Linked DNA regions of Homo sapiens. The protein of the gene in region 1 interacts with the protein of each later gene in a pairwise test. Each region holds a gene or a part of one and is shown on either strand. Other genes may lie near its edges.

Region 1 (5,204 bases):
TGATAATTCAGGCTTAAAACCTGGAGTTGATCCTTCTGCAGAACTGGAAGTCAGAAAGTCTTTCTTTCCTTTTTATTTCTTGAGATTGAGATGTCTATCCTTGGTGTGTGTGTGTGTGTGTGTGTGCGCGCGCGCACGTTTGCATGCATGCAAGTGTGTGTGTTTAATTTTTGAGCAGTGGTATGCAATTCTCTTCAGTGTTCATCATGATACATTCTGCTAGCATGTAGTAGAAAAGATAGTCTAGGAGTCTTCAGACGTATGAAGTCAAGAGGATATGCACAATATAACACCATTTTGAAAGTAAAAAAAGTCCAAGTGCCTAAACTTAGTGGTATGTAAAGAGAATTATGAGGAGGGAAAGAAAATATAAAAATATGAGAAGAATTAGGCAAAGAATGTGATTGAAAGTATAAAAATAAGACTCAAACCAATAATTATAACTAAACATCCAGTATATGGAGTGATAACTTCTTAAAGAAATAAAGAGGAGGGGACAAATTTGTAAGCATCTCAATAAAGTATTTTATTGGCAGAATAAGCAAGAACCGAATCTAGTTGCCTAAGAAGAGGCCAACATTGCCACTGTTAGATTAAGAATCATGGGGGAAAAATGAGTGTTGAGCCATAGTCTAGCTATAGCTTCCCCAAGAATTTACAGAAATTCTCTTCTGGGGTACTGAATCCATAGGTGAATCTCTGGAAGGAGCACTGGCATTTGCTAGGGCTACTGTGCGGGCTGGAACTGAATATTGATTGTGTAAGAATATGTAAGAATGTACTCTGCCTGAAATCTTTTGCTCTAAAAGTTCATCATGGCCAACACTAGCTTTCAGAAATAAGCCAGATACAAGTCTTTTTGTGTAGAACAAAAGCTGATCCAGGTACCAGGGCATAGAAATATGAACAGAAACATTATCAGCACAGGACCCATACATTTTTATCTTCCAAGAGATAAAAGGAGAGGAGAGGAAGGGGGACAATTGAAATGGATATATATTTACACAATTTTTGAGGTATTGGACAGTATTTTTACTGTGTCTGGTTAAAATTAGCAAGCAAGTTTTTCCAACAGGAGGCAGTGCTGTTTTATGCTGTAATTTAAGTATAAAATTGATTTGTGCTATCAAATCACTCAAATTACATAAGTGAGGTCACAAGGCCTAACCTTGAGCTATGGGGGAAAAAGCAACCTTTAAGCCACAGCCTAAAAAAAGACTTTACCGAAGGGAATGGTGAATGCCAACTGTTCTGTAGCAGGAGAAAAGGATAAAATAAGCTGAAAGGGGTGGAAATACAGTAATTTGGGGGACCCTGTGCTTGAAGGGAAGTAAATTTCCTTAGGGCAGGAGAATATCATTAATACAATGACATGCTTGCGCGAAAGAATTTTCTGTTATCTATGGTAGAAAATTTAGAAAATGGTCAAAAGTCTGGTAGCTAGAAATCTAATATTAAAAAGGTACAGGAAAGTCAACTTTACAATTCATTTTCCAAACATTTGTTGATCCCACTTTCTATGCCAGGCACTGGGTTGTATAACGGGGATACAAAGATGAAAAAAAAAAGATCATAATCAAAGTATCTGAAAAAGAAAACCACTAAAGAAATGTTATTGAATGTAAAGGAAAACTGTAACTTCTTTAATAATACATTATTCAAATTCAAAGATGATAGCACATTTTGAGATTCAGATTGGTAATGTATCTTTGATTACACTTTGCAAATGTATTTGACAATTAACCATATACTACTACTTTTTATTACTGAGGTAGGAGGCAGGACTAGACTCTGGAGGTGGGGATTGGGCTCCAGACCACACTGAAGACAAGCTGAAAGGGAAGAGGTGAAAGAGTCTCTCCATAAAACACACTCACCAGTGCCACGTCAGGTTACCATTGCTAAGGCAACAGCTGGAAGTTTTGGCTCCTTTCCATAGCAACAATCCCACGACCTGGAAGTTACGACCTTTTTTCTAGAAATTTTGGCATAATCCACCCCTAAATTTGCATATAGTTGAAAGTGGGTATAAATGTGATTGCAGTACTGCTTCCGAGCTGCTACTCTGGGCACACTGCCTATTGGGAGCCCTGCTCCACAAAGCAGCTTTGTTGCTGCTGTACATTAAACCACTTTGATAAAAGTTGTTGTCTAACACCAGCAGCAGCACTGGCTCGTGCGCAAGTGACCGTGGACGACCACGCTGTGCCCTCCCTGCTGTCCCCTCTGGTCATCAAAGGATCCTTCCCTGGCTCGAGGCCCCTGCCTGGGCCCAGAAAGGCTGCTGAGGAAGCGAAAGGCAGGAATTAAACATGGGTTTTTCTTGAGCCACGCTTCAAAAAGTCCAACTCCCTGCAGCGGTCACCAAGGCCCTCAGGACCCCTCACCATAGCCTGCCCGAAGCCCGCAACCCACCTGGAACCTCCTGCAGTCCTTAGCCTGAGCTGGCAATTGTGCGCATGCTTGCAGACCCCTTCTTCCCAACGTGTGCTGGGGAAGACCCTAGGGCGCCTGCGCACACTCCCTCCTCCTCTTCCTCTTGAATAGAGCTAATGTGAATACCTGCTTCCCATGTCTCCATGACCTCACTAGAGGCTGGCTGATTTAAAGACAATGAGTTCCCTTAAAGGGTTCTCATTATGCTCAGAAATAGAAATAAGGAAATCCTATTGTTTGATTCGCACAACCAGTCAGCGGCAAATTTTCTAATCACGTGGCATTCGAGAACCTTCCTGGACAGGCCCATCCCGAAAAAACCGGATGCTTTCGCCTCACAGCATAGGATGCTCAGGTGTCTGCAGTCTCAGCCTATGCACCTGGTGCTCTGCCTCTTCTCCATAACCAGAGAGGAGCTCGAGATACAGACTGTGTGTGTGTGTGTGTGTGTGTGTGTGTGTGATAAAAATATGAATAACCATATAGAAGATATTATATGTTATTTTCCCAATATCCTACTCTTTTTCTTTTTCTTTTCTTTTCTTTTTTTTTTTTTGAGACAGATTCTTGCTTTGTCACCCAGCCTGGAGTGCAGTGGCACGATCTCGGCTCACTGCATCAAGTGATTCTCCCGCCTCAGCCTCCTGAATGGCTGGGATTACAGGCGAGTGCTATCACGCCTGGCTAATTTTTGTATTTTTAGTAGAGATGGGGTTTCGCCATGTTGGTCAGGCTGGTCTCGAACTCCTGACCTCAGGTGATCCACCTGCCTCGACCTCCCAAAGTGTTGGGATTACAGGCGTGAGCCACCTCGCCCGGCCCTTACTTCATTTTGGAATGCCATGAACCATAATATGTTCTAGAAAAGTGGAAACTGTTATTTTCCACTTTGTAACAGTACAGTTACATTCATCTTTTTGGTAGTAAATCATTGTACTATAAACTGATGTCTCAGAAGTAACATTCACGTGTGTAACCCCCACATTTCTTTTATTGATGCTAAAAGTCTACAAGGATCACAAAGGAACCTATCTACCCATGTATAAGAACTAGAAAATTATCAAGGAGGGGCAGTCTAAATTTTTTAAAAAGCTCGAAAATAATGGCACTTGTTTTCCCTGTGCCATGCGTTTGTCCCCACTACAAGCTACTTGACATTAGACTACCAAAACTACCAAAGGAAGTTATTGTTAGACGAATTTATTTTAAAACTCTGCATACACATCATTTAAAATGAGTTAAAAACTTAAAAAGTGAACTCTGAGCTTTGGCAAAGTTGCAAAGGTGATGCAGCAAAGTTTTCTGTGTCATTAAAACTATGCCTGAAACTACAGGATTCCTTCCGTTGGAATGAAGTTTTCCCTTCAGCTCCAAGAATTCAGCCTCCCTTAACCAAGTTGCCTTCAGTTTTAGGACCTGCGCTGTCAGTCAGGCCCGACCTCCGCAACGGCCTCCGACCACCGCCTGTGGAGCAGCACCCAGAACAGGAGCGCGCCCCCCAGCAGCAGGGCCAGGCCCAGCCTCCAGCTCCTGGGGGACTTCAGCCACTTCCACAGCCGGGCCGACAGCCAGGCGCCCCATGGCCTCCTCTGCACCCTGGCTGCCACGCGCTCCGCCACCCGCCGGAGCCGCTCCTCAGGGCCTGCCCAGCGCAGCACCTGCGCCAGCTCATACACCTCGTTGGAGTAATGGGCGCCCTTGTGCTCCAGCACCAAGCCCTCGACCATCCCCAGCAGCTGCTCCACCTGGGCTTCCTGCTCCCGGCCGGTGGCCCGGTTATCAAAGGCACAGACCCGGCCCCCGCACTCGGCCACCAGCTCGCGCAAGGCCCGGTTCTCTGTGTTGCTCACGTAATCGTGCAGGGAGCCCCCGGCCAGGTCCTCCTTCCTGGTGAAGACGATGACCATCCATTTTAGGACGTCCTCCCCGAACATGTCCCTCACCTGCCTCACCGCCTGCTGGTCCTGGGCGGTGAACCGACCCAACTGGGTCACCAGGAGCAGCGCGTGGGGTCCGGGGGCCGAGAGCAGGTAGCAGTGACCTCTCTCCTCACAGCCAGGATCTGTCTTGGACACTTGGGAGCTGAAAATGTCCGGAGTGTCCACGACTTCCACGTGGCACTTGTCCCACCTGCGGCTGCCCGTGGTGCAGGCCCTGGTCACAGACGTGGCCCCCAGCCTGGAGAAGAACCGTCTCTGGCCCAGGATGCTGTTCCCAGTGGCGCTCTTCCCGGCCCCTGTTCTCCCAACAAGGATGAGCCTCCGCGTGGACTCCTGCCGGGACTGAGCGTTCTCTTCTAAACCTGTGAGACCAAGTGTTATAATCTTACTTAAGTTTAACCAACTTCCCCTTGGGAACTGGAATCTTCTTGCCTTTAGCATAAGTGGTTAAGAATAGAGATTTGAACGCCTGGGCGTTCATTTCCACCTTTTCCTTTTGTATTTGGGTTGTCTGCCTGCACCAGTAGATGCTCCAACTACAGTTGATTATCATAGAAATGCTTCTTTATCAGTCCAGCCCAATAGTTCATCTGACATTTCTGGTCATCCACACACATGCAGACATATTTATTTCATATTTGAAAATTTCGATGGACTCTGAAATATTCTCCCAGAGACCATCCCCAGAGACAGGCAGTGGGGGCAATACTGCCTGGTAGTGAAGAGCTGTGTGGAGTCCCAGATACCCTGGTTTGAATCACAGCCCCACCACGTGCTGGTTGTGTAACCTTGGGGAAGCTGCATAATCTAAGTATTAAGCCTCTTCGG
Region 2 (7,032 bases), on another chromosome or scaffold:
ATTGCTAGATTCAATTATATGAGGTGAAATATCTGTACATTGAAAAAAACTCAGATGAAAATTTCTGTCCTTATAATTACTGCTAGGCAAGAATTCCGTCTTGTTTTACTTTGCTTTTATATGAATTATTCCTAAAGTAAATCATTTTTATATGCCTACATCTACTGGCATTTTTATATTATGATTTTTCCATGAATGCCCTTTAGCCATTTATCTATTAGAGTATTGTCTTATTCCTTTATAAAAGTTGCCATATATTAACCTTATCCTTGTCTTATATGTTGCAAATGCTTTACCAGTTTGTCACTTGCCTCTTAATTTGCTTGGAGTTAATAAAGTTTAGAATATATCATATATAAACCTGGTTTACTACCCACACGTAAAACCTGATTCTGCCACTTTGTTTTGTATCTTCAGGCAAGTTTGATAACCCATCTTTACCTCAGTTTCCTCTTTGGTAAATGAGGATCTTAATATATTTTATAGGGGTATTATGAAGATTAAACAAAATAATTATTTAGAATAGGCCAGGTACTGTGGCTCACACTTATAATCCCAGCGCCGTGAGAGACTGAGGCAAAAGTATGACTTAACCCCAGGAGTTTGAAACCAGCCTATGCAACGTAGCGAGACCCACATCTCTACAATAAAGTAAAATAATTATTCAAGTGTTGTGGCACATGCCTGTAGTCCCAGCTACTTGGGAGGCTGAGGTGATAGGATTGCTTGAGCACAGAAGTTCCTAGGTTGAAGTGAGCTATGATTGCATCACTGCACTCCAGCCTAAGTGACAGATAAAGACTCCCCAAAAAACTCCAAAATGCATCAGAATAACTGAGGGCAATGTCTAGCACTTAGTAATCTATTTTAGATCTGATTTTTATTTATGTTGTTTTTCAGTATACAGAAGCTTTTAATCTCATATAATTTAATCTAACAATCTTTCTTTTAAGCCTTCTGTATTAGTCCCCTCTCACCCTGCTATAAATAACTGCCCAAGACTGGCCAATTTATAAAGGAAAGAGGTTCAATTGACTCACAGTTCTGCGTGGCTGGGGAGGCCTCAGGAAACTTACAATTACAGAGGAAGGGGAAGCAGGCATGTCTTAAATGGCAGCAGGAGAGAGACAGCGAGAGAGAGTAAGAGCAAGAGACGAACTGCCAAACACCTAAAAAACCATCAGATCTTGTGAGAACTCCCCCACTATCACGAGAACAGCATGGGGAAAACTGCCCCCACGATCCAGTCACCTCCCACCAGTGCCCTCCCTCAACATGTGGGGATTACAATTCGGATTACAATTGTTGATGAGATTTGGGTGGGGACACAGCCAAACCATATCAGCTTCAATAAGTGCCTAAACTTTTTTTAAAAAGGTAAGAAATTTTTTTTAAAATTTTTTAAAAAATTTCCACAGCTTTCTGTCTTCCAAAGCATAGATTAACTGGCCAGAATGTATAGCTACTTTGTGTAATTGCTAATTCATACAGATTTAACAGAATAAAAGATTATCTGATAATTATTGCCACTGAATTGCACACTTAAAAATGGTTAAAATGACATGTTTTACATGATATATATTATACCACAACTTTTAAGTTAATTATATATCAAAAACCATTTAATTGTGTACATTAAGTGAATGCTTTGTGTGACATATGAATTTATATCTCAATAAAGCCCTTTTTAAATTAAAAAAACCTGAGAAAGTAATGTCCATTTAGAATAAGTAATTTCACTACTACTTCCAAATGAAAGAGCTGTTAAAATAAACGCTTTGCATTGTGATTCATTCATTTGACAAATATTCATTGAGCACCTAAGAGCCAAGCACTGTGCTGGGCCCTGGAGATTCACTGGTGACCAAAACAGTCATGGAGCTTATAGGAAAGGTGTGGGAAACAGATGTTTTAAAAAATTTAATCTCAGCTGGGCGTGGTGGCTCACGCCTGTAATGCCAGCACTTTGGGAGGCCGAGGTGGGCAGATCACGAGGTCAGGAAATCGAGACCATCCTGGCTAACATGGTGAAAACCCGTCTCTACTAAAAATACAAAAAATTAGCCGAGCATGGTGGCGGGCGCCTGTAGTCCCAGCTACTGCGGAGGCTGAGGCAGGAGAATGGCGGGAACCCGGGAGGCGGAGCTTGCAGTGAGCCGAGATCGCACCACCGCACTCCAGCCTGGGTGACAGAGCAAGACTCTGTCTCAAAAAAAAAAAAAAAAAAAAAAAAAAAAAATTTCTCTAATGAATGTTCAGTTACAAATCTGAGATAGATACTATCATAGAAAACTGAAAATTACTATATAATGAGAAAATAATTTAGACTGGGGGTTAGGAAAGGCCTCTTTGAGGAAGTGAAGCTGTGACTTAAAGGAAGAATAGGATTTATCCAGGAAAAGTTTTCAGCAAATTCTATGGACATCTTAAAGTAAATAAGGAACAGCTTATAGTGACACTGAATTTTGTGGAACAACAACAAAAACAAATACTCTACTAATTTTCTTTAAAAGGCTTTTTAAGGAAATGTTCTTATTCCGTAAGTGATGCTAAGATGCAGTAAATCTTCTATGTCAGGGCTTCTTGGACCTTAATGTGCCTACAGATTTACCTGAGAATCTTGTAAGATGTGGGCTCTGATGCAGTAGCTCTGGGCTGGGGCCTGAGACTCAGGGAATGCCCACATTGCTCTGCAGAGGACCATGCTGAACTGAGGAAAACAGGCAGACATTTCAGAATTCTTGAATTATTTTGTAAACTCTCTATTTTCAGTTCAAGCAAGTTTGCTGCTGTTGGATTTCATAAAACTTTGACAGATGAACTGGCTGCCTTACAAATAACTGGAGTCAAAACAACATGTCTGTGTCCTAATTTCGTAAACACTGGCTTCATCAAAAATCCAAGTACAAGGTAAGTTGAGAAATTGAGACAAAAGGATTGGTGGTTGCTATGAATACCAGCCATTCTGTGGGTTTTCCTAAATGTTTTAATCCTGAAAACACCTGATAGTTAAAGCTCTTAGTTCATTTTGATTTCAGTTTCTGCAGATTGTGGGAAAACAGGTGGAAAGCCAAAAAGAGAGAAAGCAAGGGAGCGTGACTAAAAAAGTAAATATGAATGACATTGGTAAACTTGCTAACTCTTCCTTTTTTCTTCTCCTGAGTAATGATTCACAGGCTTAAATATGCATACATGTCACCAGGTGTGCTTGGGAACTATGTTGGGGCTTCACCCTCAGATATGTTGACTTACTGGGTTTGGTTGGGGTAGGGTAGTGGCAGGGAAGGGAGCCTGGAACTCTACATTTAAAAAAGGTGATTATCATAGGTGATTCTGATAGAGATAACCCAAGACCACATGTGAAAAACACTTCCCTTGGAGGTAATCTAGAGATTAGCCTCCGAAAGGAGTACCAGATCATACTCTTTACTTGGTTAAAAAATAAAATTATAAAGGATTAATTTGAAGATAATTTTTAATGTTTTCTCTCTTTAGAAATAGCTTTAATGTCTTTGTAAACATGATGCATACTTATTTGTTTAAATTCCAATGTTAATGAAAAATACAAATCGAAAAGTTTCTTTTTTAATTTCCTTAAAACCCTCTATTGAGTGGAAACCACTCTCAAAATTTTGATAAACATCCTTCTAGACTTCTCTGAATTTTCTATAACTGGCGTATGTTACACATGGGGTCCTGGAAGCAGCAAGTATACTGCATACTTCCCTCAGCATTATGTTACAGACATCTAATAAAGTACAGAGCATTATAATAAATTGTATTGATTATTGGGAGCAATAGCATCTCCTAGTGATGATTTTAGGGTTGTTTTTAGTGTTCTGGATTTTTAACAGCAAATCAGCAATAAGCATCCTCGGGCACACATATTTTCACTTTTGGATAATTATCTCCCTCAGGTAGATTCATAAAGGGGGATTACTGGGCCAAAGGGTATATAACTTGTAAAAATTCCTACATATTGCCAAACTCCTCTCCAGAAATGCTCCACTGATTTGCACTCCTACCCACAGTGCAGGGAGAGCAACTTACTCTCTACTTCTTCATCAGTCTGCCTTCTGTGACTCTTTTAATCACCGCCAATCCAGTACGCGAAGAATCATCTTTGTTTTTACCCTGATGACTAGCTACATTCATGTTCGCATATGATTTTTGGACATTGCACTTCCTTTTATGAATTGCCTATTTTCATGGCATCAGCTCACTTTTTGCTATTGAGCTCTAGAGTTGTTTTTGTTTGTTTCTTTGTTTGTTTTTTGTTTTTTTTGAGACAGGGTTTCACTCTGTTGCCCAGGCTGGAGTGCAGTGGCGCAATCTCGGCTCACTGCAACCTCCACCTCCCAGGTTCAAGCGACTCTTGTGCCTCAGCCTCCCGAGTATCTGAGATTACAGGCACGCACGACCACGCCCAACTAATTTCCGTATTTTTAATAGAGATGGGGTTTCGCCACGTTGGCCAGGCTGTTCTCAAACTCCAGGCCTCAAGTGATCCGCCCACCTTGGCCTCCCAAAGTGCTGGGATTACAGGCATGAGCCACCATGCCCAGCTGAGCTCTAGAGATTTTTAATTAATACATAAGAAACAATTCTTCATACATTTGAGAAACCCCTTTATATATCACATCTGTTGCATATGTTTTTTTTTTCCCCAGTTGTTTTTTGTTTGCTTTTAAGCCTATTTTCATTTAGTTTTACATTAAAATTTTCTTAGGGATTTTTTTCTCATGGACTTTAGGTTCTGTGAGGTGTTTAGAAAGGTCTTTCTCATTCCAAGTTTTTGAAAATATTTACCCATATTTTTTCTAGCATATATTTTATGGTTGCATTTTTCATATTTAAATCATTGCCCCACCCAAATTTATTTTGATTTAAGAAGTAAGGTCACAGTATAGTTTTTTCCAAATAGTTAATGAGTTTTCTGCACTATTTATTAAATAATACATCATTTTCCTCACTGATATTAAATTCATATTATAAGTTCACATGCTTACTTGGATAGACTTTTGGATTCTCAATTTTATTGTAATGATGAGATTCAATTTTGCTTGGTTTTGTTTTGTTTTTCAGACAGGGTCTCATTTAGGCTGAAGTGCAGTGGTGTGATCATGGCTCACTGTAACCTTGAACTGGGCTCAAGCAACCCTCCACCTCAGCCTCCTGAGTAGGACTACAGTGTGTGTGCCATCATGCCCAGCTAATTTTTTTTTTTTTTTTTTTTTTTGAGAGCCAGGATTTTGCTGTTTGCCCAGGCTGGTCTCAAATTGGCCTTGAGCAATTCTCCCACCTCCACCTCACCTCCCAAAGTGCCAAGATTATAAGCATGAGTCATTGCATCCAGCCAAGATTCAATTTTTAAGTTTTATTCTGCCCCCTCAAACTTCCCCATATTTCCCCCAATTCAGCTGCCTTTGTTGAAAATGTATTTAAAATTAATGAAAAATATTCAGTGTGGCCACTTGAAGGGTTAATTTGAAGGTAAAATTGAAGATTCTAATTTTTTTCCTTTTTTTATTTTTTTTATTTTTTTTGAGACAAGGATTCGCTCTGTCACCCAGGCTGGATGCAGTGGCACAATCACAGCTCGCTGCAGCCTTGACCTCCTGGGCTCAACCTATTCTCCCACATCAGCCTCCCCAGTCCCTGGGACCATACAGGCATGTGTCCCCACACCTGGCTAATTTCTAAATTTTTTGTAGAGACAGGGTCTCCCTATGTTGCACAGGCTGGGCTCAAGGGCTCCTTGAACTCAATTGAACTCCTGGGCTCAAGTCATTCTCCCAACTTCAGCCTCTCAAAGTGCTGGGATTACAGGCATGAGTCACCATGCCTGGCCTAACAGTTCTATTTTATTATTATTATTATTTTTTTAGTGGAGACGGAGTTTCATCATATTGGTCAGGCTGGTCTCGAACTCTTGACAGCTGATCCACGGCCGCCAGGTTCTATTTTAAACACACTTAATTTAAGTCATCCCACAGGGAAGCAGAACAGAAAGCCAACGTTAGACAGAAATTTGGGAGCTGTCCAAAGATCTCAAGCCCCCAAGAATCTATCAAACAGTCTTTAAAATCTATTTTTAATACACAATTTTTGTTAGAAAACAAAAGTAAGAGTGTATATTTTAGAGGTCAATGTTTAAATTTATCAGTATTAAACAAGAGAACCCTAATTGGAGTCTGAAGAGAGAAGAGAAGGGACAGATATGTTTTTCAGGTTGGGAAATGGATCTGAGGAATGAAAGTAGTGAGGATAAGCTTCACTAAAACTGAAAGCAGATGTTGAAGATAAAACTTGCCAGTTTCCTCAATTTCTTTTTCAGTATGTGGATACTAAAATAACATATTTGAGTCAAGTTTTAAAGTCATACTGTCTTTCAGTAGTTAAAAACAGACATCCTATTTTCAAAAGTTATAATTGAATTTTTTAACCTTGCCCCCCCTACAAGGCCGCACAGAGCTGACCTTAACGTGGGCTCCAGCGCCCTCTCCTGACAAAACTTACTAGTGCCATTAATTCCTACATATTGCCAAACTCCTCTCCAGAAATGCTGCACTGATTTGCACTCTGGAGGAAAAGTGTGAAAAGAGGCTAAGATGATTCTAGGCTGAATATAAACCTGGCTAAGGAAGGGCCTAAAGATTGGTCCTGACATATGAACCTCTTTGAGGCTAAGCTGGTACTAAAGTAGACCCCAAAGATGAAGTTGGTTTTAATATAGAAACTTATTACTTCTAATTAGAAGAGAGAACATGTTCCTCGTTAAATACCTGTTTACATTTCAGACACCAAATAAAATGTCATTTTCTTAAACCTCACAACAATACTTTTGGGGAGATGTTATTAGTCCCTCTTCAGTAGATGAGAGAGATCTGAGGTTTAGAGAAATTAAATTACAAGTTATATACCCTTTGGCCCAGTAATCCCCCTTTATGAATCTACCTGAGGGAGATAATTATCCAAAAGTGAAAATATGTGTGCCCGAGGATGCTTATTGCTGATTTGCTGTTAAAAATC
Region 3 (7,032 bases), on another chromosome or scaffold:
ACAAGGTGACATGTCCAGGTTCCCTAGGCTGATTGATGGCAAAGTCAAGACCAGAACCGGGATCTGCACCTCCCCACCCCTATAATTCTCTGATACCGAATGAAGTTTTAGATGCCTTTAGAGGTGCTGGTGATTGGGCTAAGAAACTTAAGGGCTTGCTTAGGGGAGGGAAACATGATCAGGCTTAAGGGGGCAAGGTACTTTGTGCTTCAGAAGTATTTGTGACAGCTGTGACTAAGGGATTCGAAGAAGTGGCAGGAAGAGAGATTTATGGCCCTCCAACTCCCTCCCTTGGTGTTGACCCAGCAACAGGTGTGTAGTGACAGGGACACATAAAGCCAGAGACAAGGCTGAACAGGCGGCAGGGCCATTTGGTGAGACAGTCAGCTGACCCCGTGTAGAAAGAGCCCTGACTCACTGGGGAGTGGGAGAGGAAGACAAGTCCGAGGCCGAGCACTGCCCACCCTGACGTGATGGCAGGGGAGAGCCCAGGGCCACGGACCTGGTAAGCATTCCTAAGAATACGGAGGCTGGTGCTGGGAAAAGCAGAAACCCAGTATTGGGGAGAGAGGTTTCTGGGGTGAGGTGGGGCCAGGAGACCCTGCAGAGTAGCAAGGCCAGGCAGATTGTCTTTGTAGTGGTCCTGGTGGATGTGGGGCCTGCAGCATTAAGCTGGGTGAAGAAGGCGCCACGCTGCACCTCTTATCCCATACTCATTGTCTAAGCCACTGTCCACCCTGCCCACTACTCATTTCTTTGGGGCTCCTGGATGGAGACCTGAAGTAAGGCTTTGTGTTCTGAAATCACCCCCTTGGTCCCTAGTACCTCTTTGGAGGGCTACTCCCACCTTTTTCCCCTCCTCTCATCTTTCCCAAAGTGATACTTGCTTTGGCCCCTTATCCTAAGACCACAAGTAAAGCACCTATCCCTTTGGGGAGGGGGAAGTGGTCCCTTATTCCAGGACCACAAGTGAAGATGTCAGCCTTTCTCTTTGGGGAGAGGGGGAGATGGTCCTTTATCACAGGACAGCATTGAGATGGGGTTGGGTGTGTGAGGGGCCCAGCTTATTGCAATTTTGATGGCCCTCCTTTTCCTCCCTCCCCCAAGCAGTGTGCCTGTTCCACAGTGGGCACATCAGCTGAGTCTTAGAAGTGTATGTTGATGCCGCTAAAGAAATCACAAGAGACAAAGTTTTGGTGCGCCTCTACTGCACCGCAGGGTCCTGGGACACTGTGCGAGACAGGGGAGGTACTTTTTTTATTTTTTGTAGAGGTGGTCCCTGTCCTCCAGGAGCTTACAATCTAGCTGGGGAGACACAACTAATGCACACTTAAACAATCAGTACAATTAGCGATTACCACAATATTGACCACAACTGCATGAGACCAGGGAAAAGCAAGATCAGTGAGGGGCAAGGGGGGTTCAGAGAAAGTGTTTTAGTAAAGGTGGGATTCATTTACTTTTACTGCTTGAATAGTTCCAAATCAAGTGACACATTATTTTGGAGTAGGGTGGGCTTGGGAGGCAGTGAGGAGGAAAGGGGAATCGAGAGAGCAAATGCAGCGAGGCTGGAATGCAAGTGCCCTGGGCAAGGGACAGCGAGAGGGCCCCACTGTATTTCTTAACCACCCTCCTTCCTCAACTGTGCCCTCCAGTCCCGCCACACAGGCACGCGGTTGGTGCTGCACCAAGATTCAGGGCGTCGGCTGGCGATGTCAGAATGTCCATTCTGCTGGCTGGTGCGGTGTTTTGATTTCCATGGTGGGGCCTGCTGGCATGGCCCTGGCTTCGGGGCTGGGATGGTGCTGTCCCGACTTTGTCCAGATCAGAATGCGGTGCCTATGCCCAGATCTCAGGGGTCTGCTCCCCCTATCCCCCCTCCTCTCTCGACCCTGCCCCTTAGTGGGACCGGTGCAAAGGGGTTGGGAAGGGATCTGGTATCTTCGTCATTGTCGGTACTGCTTCTCCGGGGGTCTACTGGCCCCTCACTGACCTTGCCAAGTGCTCCTCTGGCGAGGGAACACAGGGGACCCCACATTCCTGCGCGGCACTGGCTCCCGTGCTGGCCGAGATGCACAGGAGCACCTGATGATACGGCCGCCCAGGGCTGGGAGCTGGGGCCTCAGTTGGGGGCTCGCTGCCTGCGCTCCCCCAACACCTGCCGCCCGGTCCGCGACACCGTGTATGCCAGCTTCTGCAGGGAGTACCTGAACACCTGCGACGAGAAACCCAGGACCCACCCTTAGTGGAGAGCACCCACAGCATGTCTGTGGTGCTGCCGTGCCCACCCCCGCCCCACCCCCTGCCCCGCCCGCCCATCCAGCGTAGGCTGGAGAGGCGGGCGCGGGCGCAGCTTGTCCACGAGTCAGGGCAGCTGGAGCTTTTCCAACTGTGCTGAGAGCTGCATGGCGGCAAGCTGATTGGACCCACAACTTAGGTATACCTCACTTCTCGCAATGGGCTGTGTCCCTGGAGGATTTCGAAAAGCGAATCCTACCCAGTAAATGCAGCATTCCAGGAACACCTTGAAGGAAATATGCGATTCCTTTGGCAAAGGATTCCTTTAGCAGGGAATTCTTCCTGCAAAGGGAGCTTTTAGGGTAAATGATTTTATGGGCAAAGCGCTTTCTTCTGATTTATCTCTTTTTACACCAAGCGCTTTTGCCTCTTTTTTATTTTTTTTATTATTATTTTTTTTTTTGTAAAGCAATTGTCCTTTTTTGGAAGTGCTTTTTTTCCCCTTCTATTTTTCTCTCGAGGGGCTTTTTCCTCTAATTTTTTTCTTTAAAGCGTTTTTGCCCGATCCATTTTTTTCCGTTAGCTCCCTTGTCTAATTTTTTTCTGCAGTGCGTTTTTAATCTAATGCATTTTTTTCTGCCAAGTGCTTTTCTCCGATTTATTTTTCCTGCAATGCGCGTTTTTCTGTTTTCCTGTGAACTACTTTTTCTCTAATTCGTTGTAGGGTTTTTTTTTTTTGCGAAGTAATTTTTATTTTTTCTGAGAAGTGCCTTTTTCTAACTTATTTTTTGTTCCACCCCCGCAAGCGCTATATGTTTTTTTAAATAAAATTTCTCCGCAATGCGCAATTTTTTAAGGTGGAAAATTTTCACTCTGCGAGCTGTAAAGTCTTTCAACACAGTAGTGCCCCGCCTCCCTCCTGGGGTCGAGTCCGGGTGTAGCGGGTTTTTCTTACCGCGTAGGTCGCTAAATGCCTGGGTGATCGTCCGCAGCGGTCGCCCGCCGCGCCCCGAGTCTTTGTTCCCTGGCAGGCGCGGGCGCACTAGGGAGGGTCAGCGCGAGGAGGACGGCGCAGGGAATGGGCAGGGGGCGCGCGGTGCCGGCAGCGGCACTTGGGCAGGCAAGGATCGCGGCAATCGGAATAGGACGGGTCCGGGAAGCGGCAATCGCGACGCAGTCTTGCGGGTTCTAGGGGCGCGAGTTGGGAACCCTCTCCCACCCGAAACCCCGTCAGACTTACCTGCAGCAGCACGCGGAAGATGTACCAGCCGATGATGAGCAGTTCAGCCGAGGCCGCCGCCACTGCCGCCATGGTTCCAAGAATGGTAGGTGGGTGGTCGAGAAAGAGGGTTTGCCGAGATCCGCTGGTCTCGGAGTCCGCTGTTGGGCGCACTGCCGCAGCCGCGGTGGCCGCGCCTTAAGTACCCGCCCGCCACCTAAGTGCGCATGCGCGCCTTGGGGGGTGTTTATGAGGAGGGGTGGCTGGGGGCGCTCCTCATTCGCCAGGAGAGGAAAAAAATAATCCATCTGCTCTTTCCATACCGACCCCCGCCTCCTGAGTTCCATCTTAGCCCCCTTCCAGAAGATTCCGCCGTGCTTGCTTTTGGATTTTGCTTTAAAATGGAGGGGTACCACGACTCTGGGTAGAGTACAGGGCGAGAATGGGGGTGCAGGTCTCTTAGTGTGGCGCCCTTCTCCCCAGTCCCTGGCCTGCAAATTTGAGCTCAGTCTCCGGTGCCACTCCAAAGCCTACCTTGGGGATGGATGGAAAACCGAAATTAGGGAGGGGTCATCTGCCCCATAGAGCAAAAAACGTGGTGCCCCTTTCAGAAGCTTTGGCATAATAGGCCCGTGCTCGGCGCTCTTTTCCTGATACTGAATGAGTTTTAAGCCCAGGTCCTCTGCTTCATGAGGGTGCCTGAGCGCGTAACCCGTCTGATTCTTTACATCTCTCTTACGGTAGCGAGGAGATGAGAATCTGCGGTGGAGGTCGCTACTGTAGGGAGCTGAGCCAGAGCACTGCGCTTTGGGCGCAAAAGCAGTAGTCACCCGGTATCTGTAGGAGGGATACAGGAAGGATTGGCGCCCTTCGTATGCACGGAAGGAATGAGCTCTACGGAGAAGTGGTTGGAATATGCTTGGGGATAGTTTTCTGCTGGACAGGTCGTTTCGACCTCAGTCTTCCGCTCCCCTCCCCCAAGCCCTGGTAGGTCGGCCTTAGCCAGTGGGGTTCTTTGTACCCGTTGCGCTGTGCGGCTGGATCACCGAACGGGGTTACGCTACCGCTACCGGAGGGTTGTGGCTACCGCAGCCCCGTTTCCAAGTGAGGCGGGTCCCTTTTAGACCGCCAGTCTTGTGGGTCCCTCGCACAGCGCGGATTTTCGGGCGGGAAGACCGGAATGCGGTTTGTGAGTGTGGTCCCCGCGCACCGGTAGCCAGCCGAAAGCACCTCTTTCCAGCAAGCTGCCTGGCCCAGGGACCAACTGGCATTTGCCCCTATGTGGATAGAAAATTAATTTTCATTAAAAGCTCCCAGAGGTCAGGTTCTATACAGTGCCAGCAGCAGATGGAGGTGTAATGATCCAAACGAGTTCAGTTTGGACAAAGTAGCATAGTGACTTTTTTTCTACATTGACTTTCGGAGAAGTTGGCAGATTCTGGCAAAGTGACGCTGGGCTGTTTGAAAAAGGCAAGCTTAGCCTAGGCTGCCATCTTAAAATATTTCGAGGCTGTAGCTGCCTCAGGATCCTTTGCCTGTGGTCTGGTGGCCGGCAGTGCCCCGCTAACAGCTTTAACTCTGCACTTAGTGCCTGAGCACCTATGGCTGTGAGAGATGCTAGATACAGAACCCTGTCCTTACCACGTGGGGGCACAGCAGGGAGCCCTTGGTCGTCCTTTGGCAACCACTGGGCGGTATTGTGAGGTCTGGGCCCCTTGAGGACGGGCTGCAGCCCCAGGAGGCGATACATGATCTCTGCTGGGCAGGGCCCAGGCAAAGCCAGCCCACTGTGTGAAACCGTGCCAAAGAGCCCTCTCCCCGATCCCCCAGGAGAAGCCCCGGGGAGACATCCCAGGAAGCTTCCCGAATTAGTGACTTGGAGAGGAGTAGAACTTTCACGGGTGGGCAGGGAGGAAAGGGCATTTCACATTTGCTGTTGTTAACCATGATCCATTTTCCCAAATAAGTATACATTCTGTTCCTGTTTTTTTTTTTTTTTTCTTTTTTTTTTTTTTTTTTTGTCTGTCTGTCTGTTCTTTGTCTGTTTGTCTGTTGTGTTGACTTTTCTCTTCAGGATCCCTGCTGCCTTGGTGATCCCGGGCTGACAGCCAGAGAGCACAGCGGCTCAGCTCCTGGAGAGTGAGGGTTGAAGAAAGCGGAGGGCAGCCGCCTGCGCCCGCTGGCTCCCATTAGGTCGGTTCCTGCAGCGGTGCCCGGCAGCCTTGGTGAAGGCCCTGCCCGGCAGAGATCATGTATTGCCTCCAGTGGCTGCTGCCCGTCCTCCTCATCCCCAAGCCCCTCAACCCCGCCCTGTGGTTCAGCCACTCCATGTTCATGGGCTTCTACCTGCTCAGCTTCCTCCTGGAACGGAAGCCTTGCACAATTTGTGCCTTGGTTTTCCTGGCAGCCCTGTTCCTTATCTGCTATAGCTGCTGGGGAAACTGTTTCCTGTACCACTGCTCCGATTCCCCGCTTCCAGAATCGGCGCATGATCCCGGCGTTGTGGGCACCTAACGGCCTGCCCTGTTAGCTTTCCAAGGAAGCAGAAGACGGGAGGGGAGGCATTGACATAGGTCATAAAGCATTGGAGTTTCAAATCCCGCAGCCTCGCGGGTGTCACATTCCTGACGGCGCCTTTTTGGCCTGTGATGTTTTATCCTTACAATGTGAATAATGGCACTGACCGGTGCTTTTATTGTAAAGTCCTATAGTCGTGGGTGGTCTTGTGGTTGTGTGTGTTCTGTCCCCATCTAGGTCCTGGCTGGCCGCATGACCACCCCTCTCGCCTCATTACTGTGAGGAGTCTGGGTCCATCCTGGTCAGCTGCCCCAATGTGACCTGGGGCAGATAAAATGCCAGTCTCATTGTCACCTCTGTGACCCCTCCTTGTCAGGGTCTCCTTCCTTCCCAGAATGTTACTGACTCCTCAGTCCCTCTTCTGGTTTCCCTTTATTTCTCTTCTACCCTTTTCCTTTTTTGGGGAGTACCTGTCCAAGACAGGGCTCATTTTTGCACTTATCTCGAATTTGAAGAGATTGCTGACGCCCGAGAGCCTCGCTTTTTCATCCTTCTTTCCTTGTTCAGCAGGCTAGACAGAAACATGTCTTGACTGTTAGTTGTCCACAAATCTTCAGTATTTTCTCCACTTCATTTTTAAGAAAGGAAGCAACAGATAGATGTTGCTCTTTCACCTGGGTGTCTGGGCTCAAGCTTTCCCGCCCAGCCTCACTTCCTTTGCCCTTCCTCCTGCCTTTCTCAACTGTCCCAAGGAGGGGGCCTCATTGTGTCTCCCGTGCATGCTCTGCAGCATTGAAGTATGGTGTGTTCACGTAGTTCTAGCAGTCCCCAGCTGAGTGAGTGGGAGAGTACCTGTGTGTTTCGTAACGGCCTTGATCCCCTTGATAGATGTTTGGATATTTTTTGGTGTGCCCTGTGTGTGTGTGTGTACAAATACATGTGTATATTCCTTTTAAAGAAGCTTTATCGAACGTGGTCTGATTTTGAGGTTTAGCAATAGCTAGCTATATATGGTAGGTGCCGCTACAGTTTTTATTTAGCATGGGGATTGCAGAGTG
Region 4 (6,688 bases), on another chromosome or scaffold:
CAAAATGTCATCATGGAGGATTTCTTCTAGGCTTCCCCAAGAACACTTTGGGTACCAGGCATAAAGACAAATCTTTTGCCTTCCAAATTAGCTGATAAAAGTAGAAGGGATAAGAACTAAGAGCTATCCTGTGTCGCAGTTTCGTCATTTTCTGGCCCACATCCTGGGGCCTCTGCCTTGTTTACCCGGTGTTTTAAAACACACAGCTGGGAGGGGCGCAGGGCTTGCAGAGCTGGCTCTGTGCCCAGGAAGGACACGCACTCAAAATCAGCCCTGCAGACACGCACCTGGGAGCCGCTTCCCTCCCTTGGCACGTACAGGTATCTTCATTACCAGTGTGTCTCTGCTCAGATTCTGCTTTCAGCCTAATTGTTTCTGTCTGGGATTTCTTTCACTGCTCACTTGGCAGGGAAGCCCAGAGATTATTCTATCAGCCACACTCCGACTTAAGTGATGATGTCTTGCTCATCTCTGCTCCTGGACAAACCTCCTGGGGATCTATGTGTGTGTGGTTGTGTTCATTGATTCTTCTACCCTCAACCCCAAACCCCTAAAAGGAACAACAATGGCAAGATGTCTACACAGGTGACTCAGCACACACCCTACTTTATACTGAAGCAGCTGCACCTGAGGCAGCAAAGTAGCTCTGCTGACCCGCGGGCCACCCTCACCTCACCCCATCTCCGCTTCGCTCATGCCTTTGGGTTATTCCTTGCTCCTATTTGTCTTAGAGCTACTCTTCCCTCTAAAACATCCATCCTCATTTCCCTGCAGGGATCCTGGCAGAGCAGTTTGTTCCGGATGGGCCCCACCTGCACCTCTACCATGAGAACCACTGGATAAAGTTAATGAATTGGCAGCACAGCACCATGTACCTATTCTTTGCAGTCTCAGGAATTGTTGACATGCTCACCTATCTGGTCAGCCACGTTCCCTTGGGGGTGGACAGACTGGTTATGGCTGTGGCAGTATTCATGGAAGGTAATTTTGTGGAACGGATGGAGAGGAAGGAGAGCCTGACAAGTCATATTTATGAAGGATCAGAGTACAAAATATCAGAAATGTTGCAAATATAATAACCTCCCCCAGAAAATCCACATCTCTGGACTGCCAAAACCTGAATAGGACCTAGTGCTCTACTCTGGATGGGCCAGGTGACATATTCCCTAAAGTAGCTCATGAAAGCTTTGAGGCTTGAAGGCAGCTACCAAAGCCCCGGCTAACACTGCAGGAGTCCTCCTCGCCTTCCCACTGCCGCCAGCAGCCCCTGCTCACACACGTGCATATTCCTCGGTGTGGACGTATGTGCGCACATACACATGCGGGTACACACAATGCCCCAGCTGGTTGAATGCCACCATGCAGGGGATACACCCCTTTGGTTAAGCGAAACCACACTCTACCTTTTGCCCAGGGAGGTACCGTCTTGCCTCCATCACAAGCCTCAGGAGACCCACTCCACTGCCAGGGGAGCGCTGCCAGTATGACTCACACTGACTGGGGTATGAAAATACATTTTGTCATCTAACAACCTCACTTCTGTACCTCAGCAAGAGTCGAAAAAGGTTGAGGGCAAAACTGAATTTCAAGTATACACACACAGTCTGTTACAAATCAGCAACATGCTTCAGCCGGCCCATCCTATACTGACCCCACCATGGGTTCCATAGAGATTTTAAGATACAATCCCTTGCTGCTTTATACTCCTAACATACTCATGAAATACACTTACTCGCATCTGTTTGCTGCCTGTAATGTTATGTACTAACTGCCTAAATGCTGAAGAACCTAGCTGAGACAGGTGTAGGAGGAAACTTCGGTGATGGTGAAAGCCAAGCGTAGCCCTGACAGCTGCCATCTGGTTTGTGGCAGGTTTCCTCTTCTACTACCACGTCCACAACCGGCCTCCGCTGGACCAGCACATCCACTCACTCCTGCTGTATGCTCTGTTCGGAGGGTGTGTTAGTATCTCCCTAGAGGTGATCTTCCGGGACCACATTGTGCTGGAACTTTTCCGAACCAGTCTCATCATTCTTCAGGGAACCTGGTTCTGGCAGGTGATTTTCCACACCCAGGCCCCTCGCTGGTCTGGATGGAGAAGCCCCCACCGAGCGCATCCCAGAGAAATCCCTGACGAGAATATGGGGTCTGAAAATGCAGCATTAACATGCCATGCAAAGGGGTTTAGATGACCCTTTTCCCCCCATGCCCGCCCTTTGACTCCTAGTTTTATCCATTAACATCCAGAGGATGCATTAGCAATCCAAAATTTAAAGCATGCACGGTGACGTTCAGCTGCCCTCCCCAGAGGATGGGCTGATGCCTTTCACAGGCTCTGCTTGCTAAACTGTCCACTGGAAACGTGGGCCCTGAAGTTCTGTTTTGTTGTTTGTTTTGAGAGAGACTCACCCTGTCACCCAGGCTAGAATGCAGTGGCGCAATCTTGGCTGACTGCAACCTCCATCTCCCAGGTTCAAGCGATTCTCATGCCTCAGCCTCCTGAGTAGCTCAGGTTACAGGTGCCCGCCACCACACCTGGCTAATTTTTTTGTATTTTTAGAGACAGGGTTTCACCATGTTGGCCAGGCTGGTCTCGAACTCCTGAACTCGAGTGATCCGCCTGCCTCAGCCTCCCAAAGAGCTGGGATTATAGGCGTGAGCCACTGCACCTGGACTTGTGTTTTTAAGTAAGCCTATACAACCAAAATTAAGCTGAAGCCTTTTTTTTTTTTTTTTTTTTCTGAGACAGAGTCTCGCTTTGTCGCCCAGGCTGGAGTGCAGTGGCGCAATCTTGGCTCACTGCAAGCTCCACCTCCCAGGTTCACGCCATTCTCCTGCCTCAACCTCCCAAGTAGCTGGGACTACAGGCGCCCGCCACCACGCCTGGCTAATTTTTTGTATTTTTAGTAGAGATGGGGTTTCACCGTGTTAGCCAGGATGGTTTCAATCTCCTGACCTCATTATCCACCCACCTCAGCCTCCCAAAGTGCTAGGATTACAGGCATGAGCCACCGCGCCCGGCTTTTTTTTTTTTTTTAAGACAGTCTCGCACTGTGGCCCGGGCTGGTGTGCAGTGTCATGATCTCGGCTCACTGCAACCTCCGCCTCCCAGGTTCAAGCAATTCTCCTGCCTCAGCCTCCCAGTTAGCTAGGATTATAGGTGCCCACCACCATGCCCAGCTCATTTTTTGTATTTTTAGTAGAAACAGGGTTTCACTATGTTGGTCAGGCTGGTCTTGAACTCCTAACCTTGTAAACCGCCTGCCTCAGCCTCCCGAAGTGCTGGTATTACAGACGTAAGCCACCATACCTGGCCAGAGCCATTTTTCTATGTGAAAAGGCCTTTCTATGCTAACGAAGTGTGGGAACTATGAGGCGGTGGTCACACATGGGCCACTTCGGTGGCCACAGGAGAACGGCTAGATTGCTTCTCAGGACGACCAACCACAAGACCAACTTCTCTCTGTAATCCCCTAGATTGGGTTTGTGCTGTTCCCACCTTTTGGAACACCCGAATGGGACCAGAAGGATGATGCCAACCTCATGTTCATCACCATGTGCTTCTGCTGGCACTACCTGGCTGCCCTCAGCATTGTGGCCGTCAACTATTCTCTTGTTTACTGGTATGTCTGAGACTTCAGTGAAGCTTTTCCTCCTAACTCTAAGCAGGACTGATGTGATTAACTTGCACCATCTGATGAGTGCCGACTACAGGCCAAATTCTGTGCAAGGTACTCTCATGCAGGGAAGGTATCACTACCCTTATTTGCAAACAAGGGGAATGAGGCTTTTCAAAGTTTAATGACCTGAGGGCTTTTCAAAGTCATAGTAACCTGAGGGACCCAGGTTTCAAATGCAGGTCTCACAGATTTTAAGCCTATGGTGTGGTGGGGAATACTGAAATGGGAATCAGTACTGGATGGCAGTCCCCACGTAAAGGGTTCATTCTGGACCCATCATCTTATTTCCAGACCTGCCCTCCCTGCTTCCCAGAAATGATGTGACAGTCAAAAAATAAACCAGAGCAGAATGTTAAGACAAACTGCACTCCACCCCTCACTGAAGGCTCCTTAGAGGTATACAGATAACAGCTATGGACTCCTATGCACTTGCTGCGCCCCAGGCCCAGTGGAAAGCAGCTACACTCTATTATCCCATTTAATCTTCACTGCTTTATGAAGTATGCACTGTTATTTTTTACAGGTGGAGAAAACAAGGCTTCAAAAAGCTGAGTAACTTGACCAAGGTCACCCCACTAATAAATGGCAGAGCCTCTCAGTGCAAGGGTGAATTTTAGCAAATGGTATTACCAGTTCTATTTGCTGTTCGGCTGCCTCTACCTTTTCTTCTAGGTCATTTCTCTAGATCCCAAGCAGAATATTAGGTTGGTGCAAAAGTAACGGTGATTTTTGCCATTATTTCATCCAGAAAGAGTTCCACACGGACCAAAGAGAAGGGAGCTCAAGTCAGTTTCTTTTAGTTCTCCTGCCCAGCCACTGAAACAGTAAACCAAGATAGGCAAGACCTTGGCCTCAATTATGACATTCAGTAGTTTCCACCATCGCCCCTTTATCTACTGATGAATATTTCCTAAGAAGTCTAGTTTATAGACATGTAATCACAGTATTTGATAGAAATATAAAGAAAATAGTTTAAGAATCAGTAGATGCCTTCACATCCTTGGTAATGGATTAAGGGAATCTCTGGCTAATTGGCTCTTACTCTTTCTCTATTAAAGCCTTTTGACTCGGATGAAGAGACACGGAAGGGGAGAAATCATTGGAATTCAGAAGCTGAATTCAGATGACACTTACCAGACCGCCCTCTTGAGTGGCTCAGATGAGGAATGAGCCGAGATGCGGAGGGCGCAGATGTCCCACTGCACAGCTGGAATGAATGGAGTTCATCCCCTCCACCTGAATGCCTGCTGTGGTCTGATCTTAAGGGTCTATATATTTGCACCTCCTCATTCAACACAGGGCTGGAGGTTCTACAACAGGAAATCAGGCCTACAGCATCCTGTGTATCTTGCAGTTGGGATTTTTAAACATACTATAAAGTCTGTGTTGGTATAGTACCCTTCATAAGGAAAAATGAAGTAATGCCTATAAGTAGCAGGCCTTTGTGCCTCAGTGTCAAGAGAAATCAAGAGATGCTAAAAGCTTTACAATGGAAGTGGCCTCATGGATGAATCCGGGGTATGAGCCCAGGAGAACGTGCTGCTTTTGGTAACTTATCCCTTTTTCTCTTAAGAAAGCAGGTACTTTCTTATTAGAAATATGTTAGAATGTGTAAGCAAACGACAGTGCCTTTAGAATTACAATTCTAACTTACATATTTTTTGAAAGTAAAATAATTCACAAGCTTTGGTATTTTAAAATTATTGTTAAACATATCATAACTAATCATACCAGGGTACTGCAATACCACTGTTTATAAGTGACAAAATTAGGCCAAAGGTGATTTTTTTTTAAATCAGGAAGCTGGTTACTGGCTCTACTGAGAGTTGGAGCCCTGATGTTCTGATTCTTCAAAGTCACCCTAAAAGAAGATCTGACAGGAAAGCTGTATAATGAGATAGAAAAACGTCAGGTATGGAAGGCTTTCAGTTTTAATATGGCTGAAAGCAAAGGATAACGAATTCAGAATTAGTAATGTAAAATCTTGATACCCTAATCTTGCTTCTGGATCTGTTCTTTTTTTAAAAAAACTTCCTTCACCGCGCCTATAATCCTAGCACTTTGGGAGGCCGAGGCAGGCAGATCACGGGGTCAGGAGATCAAGACCATCCTGGCTAACATGGTGAAACCCCGTCTCTACTGAAAATACAAAAAATTAGCCGGGTGTGGTGGCGGGCGCCTGTAGTTCCAGCTACTCGGGAGGCTGAGGCAAGAGAATGGCATGAACCCGGTAGGGGAGCTTGCAGTGAGCCCAGATCATGCCACTGTACTCCAGCCTAGGTGACAGAGCAAGACTCTGTCTCAAAAACAAGCAAACAGACTTCCTTCAACAAATATTTATTAAATATCCACTTTGCAACAGCACTGAAATGGCTGTAAGGACTCCTGAGATATGTGTCCAGCAAGGAGTTTACAGTCAAACAGGAGAGACATGCCTGTAGTTACATCCAGTGTGATGGGTGCTGAGAGGCAAGTACAAACCACGATGAGAAAAAGGAGAGGAGGGGAAATGCAGAGCTTGCCCTGTAGAAAAAGCACATCCCAGGTAGAGAGGGTAGCACATTAAAAAATGAAAGCATAAAAAAATACGGAGAACTTAAAAAGATTAAGTTCTACAAACTGATAAAAGTGAGTTAGGACCAAGTTGATGGGCCTTAGAGACCAAATAATACTTTCCGTGTGCATAGTATTTTTCAGATTCTGAGATGCACCCTATCTCATTTGATTCTCACAACCGCTTGTAATGTGTAAGAGCATGAGGTCTTTCAGAAAAGCTGGCTGGCCTAGCAGGGCGCGGTGGCTCACGCCTGTAATCCCAGCACTTTTGGAGGCCGAGGCGGGTGGATCATGAGGTCAAGAGATCGAGACCATCCTGGCCAACATGGTGAAACCCTGTCTCTACTAAAAATATAAAAATTAGCTTGGTGTGGTGGTGAGCACCTGTAGTCCCAGCTACTTGGGAGGCTGAGGCAGGAGAATCACTTGAACCCAGTAGGCGGAGGTTGCAC

What was found.
Region 2: the proteins of GIMAP1 (region 1) and HSD17B11 interact in binary tests that used the Homo sapiens proteins (3 or more experiments, as listed by UniProt).
Region 3: the proteins of GIMAP1 (region 1) and BLCAP interact in binary tests that used the Homo sapiens proteins (3 or more experiments, as listed by UniProt).
Region 4: the proteins of GIMAP1 (region 1) and TMEM45B interact in binary tests that used the Homo sapiens proteins (3 or more experiments, as listed by UniProt).

The regions. Positions count from the first base shown.
Region 1 is NC_000007.14:150,719,582-150,724,785, reverse strand, and holds the end of GIMAP1 (GTPase IMAP family member 1), read right to left. Parts: intron 4,739-5,204; coding exon 3,861-4,738; 3' UTR 502-3,860; downstream 1-501. Other genes in the region: GIMAP1-GIMAP5 protein, read right to left, coding at 4,380-4,738. UniProt on the Homo sapiens protein: May regulate lymphocyte survival. Required for normal levels of mature T-lymphocytes and mature B-cells.
Region 2 is NC_000004.12:87,353,157-87,360,188, reverse strand, and holds part of HSD17B11 (estradiol 17-beta-dehydrogenase 11 precursor), read left to right. Parts: intron 1-2,772; coding exon 2,773-2,910; intron 2,911-7,032. UniProt on the Homo sapiens protein: Can convert androstan-3-alpha,17-beta-diol (3-alpha-diol) to androsterone in vitro, suggesting that it may participate in androgen metabolism during steroidogenesis.
Region 3 is NC_000020.11:37,517,850-37,524,881, reverse strand, and holds part of BLCAP (apoptosis inducing factor BLCAP), read left to right. Parts: intron 1-428; exon of another isoform or gene 429-505; intron 506-1,191; exon of another isoform or gene 1,192-1,985; coding exon of another isoform or gene 1,986-2,215; intron 2,216-2,443; coding exon of another isoform or gene 2,444-2,524; intron 2,525-3,430; exon of another isoform or gene 3,431-3,478; coding exon of another isoform or gene 3,479-3,550; exon of another isoform or gene 3,551-3,632; intron 3,633-4,292; exon of another isoform or gene 4,293-4,444; intron 4,445-4,578; exon of another isoform or gene 4,579-4,646; intron 4,647-5,531; 5' UTR 5,532-5,707; coding exon 5,708-5,971; 3' UTR 5,972-7,032. Other genes in the region: NNAT (neuronatin), read right to left, coding at 1,986-2,215, 2,449-2,524, 3,479-3,550. UniProt on the Homo sapiens protein: Acts as a tumor suppressor; induces growth arrest at G(1)/S checkpoint and apoptosis via RB1-dependent and p53/TP53- and NF-kappa-B-independent mechanisms. Modulates expression of genes involved in the regulation of proliferation, cell cycle and apoptosis.
Region 4 is NC_000011.10:129,853,836-129,860,523, forward strand, and holds the end of TMEM45B (transmembrane protein 45B), read left to right. Parts: intron 1-774; coding exon 775-981; intron 982-1,872; coding exon 1,873-2,057; intron 2,058-3,477; coding exon 3,478-3,623; intron 3,624-4,738; coding exon 4,739-4,850; 3' UTR 4,851-6,168; downstream 6,169-6,688.